2 separate regions of the Homo sapiens genome follow, and region 1 is linked to region 2. The links come from fine-mapping of genetic effects on gene expression. Tissue or cell type: whole blood. Region 2 holds a variant in brackets; the other region holds the start of a gene. All regions are shown on one strand. Distances are from middle to middle.

Region 1 (2,752 bases), 20 kb before region 2:
TCTCTTTAAAGCTGAACTCCTTTCTTACCCTCACAGTCACAAAGCTTTAAACTGGATGAATACAAAGGTGTTAAGCCGTTCCATCAGAGAGGCTTTTTATTAGATTTATTTTTACCCGTGGAAATACTTGAACATTCTGTAGAAGTAAATATATTCTAAACCTGAGGTCTTTAAAAGAAAGCTCTCAATTAATGCCCAATCAAATCCAGTCTTCAGGTCTCTCTGAAATTAGCTAAGTATGCAGAAACCAGTTGTAATTTTTAAAAGAGCGAAGAGGGAGAAGAAATAAACGACACCAGAACTACACATTCCAGACCAGCAGTTCAAGCACCACTTCGAGAAGGGAAGTAAAGATCAAGCTCGCCGTCTCCCTCGGCCACAGCAGGGCTCCTCCAAGGCTGCCCGCTCCGGCCCGCACCGCGGACCCCGCCGCCCCCGCCCCCTCCCGCGGCCTCCCCAACCCCCGGCCCTGCCGCTTCGCCTTTCTCGCAGCGGGGATGCTCAGGGTGCGACCTCGAAGCACAACCACTGATGGAATTCTGACACCCGAAGAGGACGATTTTTCCAACAGTTTACACGCCTTCGCGGGCACCTTCCCTACTCACTGAAACCCTCACGAAAGCGGTCAACGCACCCAGAGCGGGTTTCCTCGGTCTACGGACGCAGGCAAACAGCGCCACTTAAAAAATGCGCGTCCGCGACCCGGCCCCAGGCGGCAGAGGGAGCAGCGGGCGGCCTGGCGCGGGAGCTCCCCCGGGGCTCGCAGCATCCCTGCCGCGCGCGAAGGCCGGGGCCGCGTCCACCTGGCAACAAAGGCGAAGCCCGCCGCTCGCAGGTGGGAGGCCCGGAGCCGAGGCCCCGGTGCCGCGCGAGGGAGCGTACGGGGTCCGCGCGGGGCCGCCCCTGGAGAAAGCCCAGCCGCGGACTCCGGCGGGAGAGGAGCGCCCTGGCATTGTCCCGGGGGAGGGCGGGGCGGGCGCCCGGGGGCACTGGGTCCCCGGAGGAGGTGGCGGCGCCGCGGGCGGGTTGGGGGCTGGGTCGGCCGAGGCGGACGGCCGCCCCCAGCAGCCCCGACGCCTTTCATTTGGCCTCTGCGGCGGCTGAGGCAGCCCGACCTCCAGCGCTAAGCACTGCGCCAAGCAGGGACGGGCGGGGGAGGGCGCGCCAGACCCGCCGCAGAGCCGGACCCCCGGCGCCGCACCGCCGGCCCGCCCTGCCGCGGACCCCGCTGCCCGCCCGCAGTCCGCGCTCCTCCGGCGGGCGAAGGAGACGACTCTCCGGCGTTCGCCCGGTCCCCACCTCGATGTAGCCGGCCAGCGCCAAGGCAGGCGCCGTGAGCCCCACCAGCAGCAGAAGCAGGAGCCTGCCCGTGGCTGCGGCGGCCGCGGTCCCGGTGGCCGCCATCCCTCGCCGGGTCGCTCTAGCGCGCGGCTCTCAAGCTCACACACTCGGACTCCTCGCTTAGCACACCGCGACCCAGAAGCATCTAAAGCCAGTTCGCCGCCGCCCCGGGGGTTTTACACCAACCGGAACTGACTTCATATTACCACGCCCTCCTTCTGCGGCTCCCAATGCCGGCCCGCAGAACCCCTCAAGACCCCGCCCCCTTGCGGTCCAGACCCAATCAGGAGATGGAAGAGCCTGCTCCTCCCGCCCGGTCCAACCGCGCGCCCCCCGCCCGGCCCCGCCCCCGGCCGCGGATGGCCCCGCCCCCGCTCCGGACCCTGTGGCCGCCAGGCGCGGGGGCGTGCGCGCGGCGGGTCTGGGGCCGCAACCCTGTGGGCGCGGGGCTGGCTCTGGCCTCCGCCCCCCGGCGCGGTTATCTGTCCCTGCTGCGCTGGTCCGTCAGCCTTCAGCCTCCCGATACGGGCACGCCCCGCTCCCCTGCCCCTGCTGGGCATTCTTCAGACTCCTTTGGGTACCGCCCTCTTTTTGATTCTGGAAATGGTTTTATTAAAAACAGGATGAATTAGGAGTCCGGGACGGTCTGCCAAGGGCCGTCCCCCGAGGCAGGGGGAGGACCGCAGGAGGCAGCCATCGTCCTCCCCCGAGCCCTACTCAGGGCGCGCCTCTCCCGCCCTGCTCCGCCCAGGCCTCTCCGCCGGGTCCTCGCCTCTGAGTCCGGCCGCGCTCCGCACCCTTGGCCTCCGGTCTTTAGGCCTCTTGCCGACCCTTCCTTCCCAGCAGTTGCCCAGGCAGGGATAGAGACCAGGGGTGCAAGAACCACGCCGGCCTCACAGCCCAGGCCCCCTTCCTCGTGTGTTTTAGGAAGAGATCACGCCGCTTCTTCGGTTGAGACGCACTAGCGGGAGACCTGCTACTCTGCCTTCCTGCTCCGCGGCATTGCCACTTCAGTAGAGAAAAACGTCCTGCTGCCCCATTTAGCAATTGGCACAGCCTCGCCACCGCCAGGGCTCCGCTGGCCTTGTTTCCTTTCAGTCGCCTGTGAGTTAGGTACTGCCTTCTGAGAGACCTGGACTAGTCCCTTCAGGTTCAACTAAATGCATAACACAACCCTACCCCCAGGACGCTGACAATAGAAAGGAAGAGACTGTCCGCGGAGTAGACGAGTGCGCCTGTAAGAACTCGGGATTTTCCAGCCTTATTCTGCACCACTCTCCCCTACATGCCCAGTTCCCTGTGGGTAAACTGGCTCTGCCCGATTCCTCCAAGACGACACCTTTCCATTTCACAGCCCTTCCTAACACTCTTCTGCGCCTGCAATGTCCTCTCCCCAACATCTGCCTGTTGG
Region 2 (2,752 bases):
TAACTCTGCATGGCTAACTTAAATCAAAGAGGCTTCCCAGATCCCCTTGCAAGCTCATTATTGCTACTACAAAGAGGCAAAGATGAGGAGCTGGGAATGATGATTAGCCCCTAGTGAGTTAAGAGAAGCTCATGATGACAGCACGCCATGCTAATATTTGCCTGGCATTCAGGAGAAGACATAAAATTAAATTAAAATGAAACAGATTTATATCCTTTACCTCTGAAACTCTGAAAGTATAAGATTAAAGTTGTCTTAGGGGGCCCGAATAAGCTGCCTCTTTGCTTCTAAGGAGAATTTCAAGTATTGACCATGTCTACCAAAGACTTCAATGGTTTGAGATTTGGTTACCCTAGTGACTGCCTGCTCCCTCTGCAGCGCTGCAGTCATCTGAGATCTGGCAGGGCACGTCTCCTTACAGTTTCCCAGTTCCACCAATGGAAGAGGGAACAGAAACAGCAGAGGCCTCTTCATGGCAACTCTTGTTTACATAACTTTCTCCTCACTCCAATTCTGGGGAAGCCCCTAGTGTGGCTTCTTTGAGAGTTTTGGCCAACATCTATCATTCTTCAGCTGCCCTCTCCATAAGAGATTATTTTGTGAAAGCTGCTTTATAATTATTTAAAATGGCTTAATGCCTAAAGCACACATTTATCATCTGCCAAAGGCTTTTATAGTTTTACATAACTTGCTCAGTGTTTTTAACTTTGTACTTATGACCCAAGGCAATTATTCCAAAGGACATAGTTTTATTAATTGAAATAATAAATACTTTATAGATGTTCTAATAAAATGTGGTGATTTAAAGTTTAAATGGTGTACTGAGTCATTCTAGAATACCCACAAAGCCCACCTCAGTAAAAGCCAAATGGAAAAATCTAGAGGGAGAATGAAACTAATGAAAAATTCGATAATGGTACACTAGGTGAGATCACAGAAACCATGGGGAGAATTGTAAGAGAAGTCTCATGGGTTTTAAAAAGACATATCACCAGAAATTTCATTTGCTAATTGCTTTTCCTTGATTCAAAGATTAGCAAGTGTCAATATAGCTCCTTGCTGTGTCTTTCAGTAGAGCATGTCCTCTACAAAAGTAGGAGTCGTTCTGAACTGGACCACTCACTGGCCTTAGGTAGTCACTTAATGCCTATTGGCTAATTTCCTGCTCTCTATACTCTACATCTATTACTTGACCATTAATTTTCTTTCCAAGAAGGAAACACATAGATCCAGTAACTAGAAGTTTAAGAATGAAACTGCATTCTCTATGACATTTGCCTCAAACCTCTAAACTCTTTCACAAATAAACATAAAAGGAAGCTTAGATGGGTGGATCTACTTCTGTCTC[A/G]TGGTGAGGGCTTTATCTGAAGATGTTACAACATTCTCATTTGGGTGGGTCATGGAAAAATAAGTAAAAGATTTTATAACAGCTCAGAGGTGTAGGCCAGGACAGCTTGGGTGGCTGACCAGAAAGAACAGTCTCCAGGGAAAAGCAGAGAGGCCTCTGAAAAGCTCTGTCTTCAACACTCATGTATTACCCAGTTTCCTCATCCAGAGTTGCGCCACTAAGGGTTTTGCCTCTCCCCTCCTCTCCTCTCCTCTCCTCTCCTCTCCTCTCCTCTCCCCTCCCCTCCCCTCCCCTCCCCTCCCCTCCCCTCCCCTCCCGTCCCCTCCCCTCTCCTCTTTTTTTTGTGTGTGACAGTTTCACTCTTATGGCCCAGGCTGGAGTGCAATGGTGCGACCCTAGCTCACTGCAACCTCCGCCTCCTGGGTTCAAGCGATTCTCCTGCCTCAGCCTCCCAAGTAGCTGGGATTACAGGCATGTGCCACCATGTCCAGCTAATTTTGTATTTTTAGTAGAGATAGGGTTTCACCGTGTTAGCCAGGCTGGTCTCAAACTCCTGACCTCAGGTGATCTGCCCACCTCAGCCTCCCAAAGTGCTGGGATTACAGGCGTGAGCCACTGTGCCCGGCCAAGAGTTTTTTCAAAACTGGGAGGCAGGTGGGAAATTTGGAAAGCTATAACTGTAGCTGCTGCCACGTAATTACAGACCAGAACTACCGATCGTGATTTCCAAGGTGGAGACATATTCCATATCTGTGCACCAAAACAGTAGCCACTAGTCACATGGGACTATTGAGCACTTGCTTGTGCCTTGTGTGACTGAGAAAGTAAATTTTTTTTTTCTTTTTTAATTTTTGTAGGGGCGTGGTCTCAACATGTTACCCAGACTGGTCTCCAACTCCTGAGCGCAAGCAGTCCTCCCACTTTGGCCTCACAAAGTGCTGGGATTACGGCATGAGCCACTGTGCTTGGCCAAAGAAGTGAATTTTAAATTTTATTTAATTGTAATGAATTTTAACTTAAATAGCTACATGCAACTAGTGGATACTGTATTGGGCAGTGCAGTTCTAGACTTTCAGGTGACTTGTCTAGATACTGGATGCCAAGCCCCAATTTCTTTACTGGTGGAGTACTGCAACTTTCACTTTAACCAACTCTTGAGCTTGAACCCAAAGTAAAAGAAGGAGGTGGCTGAAAAGTGAAAGGGTGGAGAGAAAAAAAATACCCTAATCTATTATTAAGGTGGAAGGACGACATGTATACAATTCTAAACCAAGTAGATAAAAAAGAAAAATGTAGTTGATCATCTCAACATTTGATATCTATACTAGACCAACAAACAATTTTGCTTTTTTTCTCCCTTAACTGAATGGAGAGAATTGGCAGATGAATTTGACATTCTGTAGT

What was found. PIP is the estimated chance that this variant, and not a neighbour inherited with it, causes the effect.
Region 1: APLP2 starts here. The variant in region 2 is fine-mapped to the expression of APLP2 in whole blood (TOPMed, PIP above 0.99).

What each region holds. Positions count from the first base shown.
Region 1 is chr11:130,068,630-130,071,381 of GRCh38, reverse strand. APLP2 (amyloid beta precursor like protein 2) reads right to left here and starts at 1,488. Exons shown (of 17, transcript NM_001142276.2): 1 at 1,300-1,488. The coding sequence starts at 1,404. It overlaps LOC107984432 (a long non-coding RNA gene), which reads left to right and starts at 1,733. Exons shown (of 2, transcript XR_001748444.2): 1 at 1,733-1,918; 2 at 2,269-2,752. RefSeq lists silencers at 600-1,059, 1,130-1,259, 1,650-1,879 and enhancers at 1,796-2,296, 2,297-2,752.
Region 2 is chr11:130,048,174-130,050,925 of GRCh38, reverse strand. No RefSeq gene overlaps it. Among named protein-coding and RNA genes, the nearest start is that of APLP2, 20 kb to the left of the region's middle. RefSeq lists a silencer at 1,306-1,506. The variant A/G (reference allele first, on the strand shown) is at 1,349.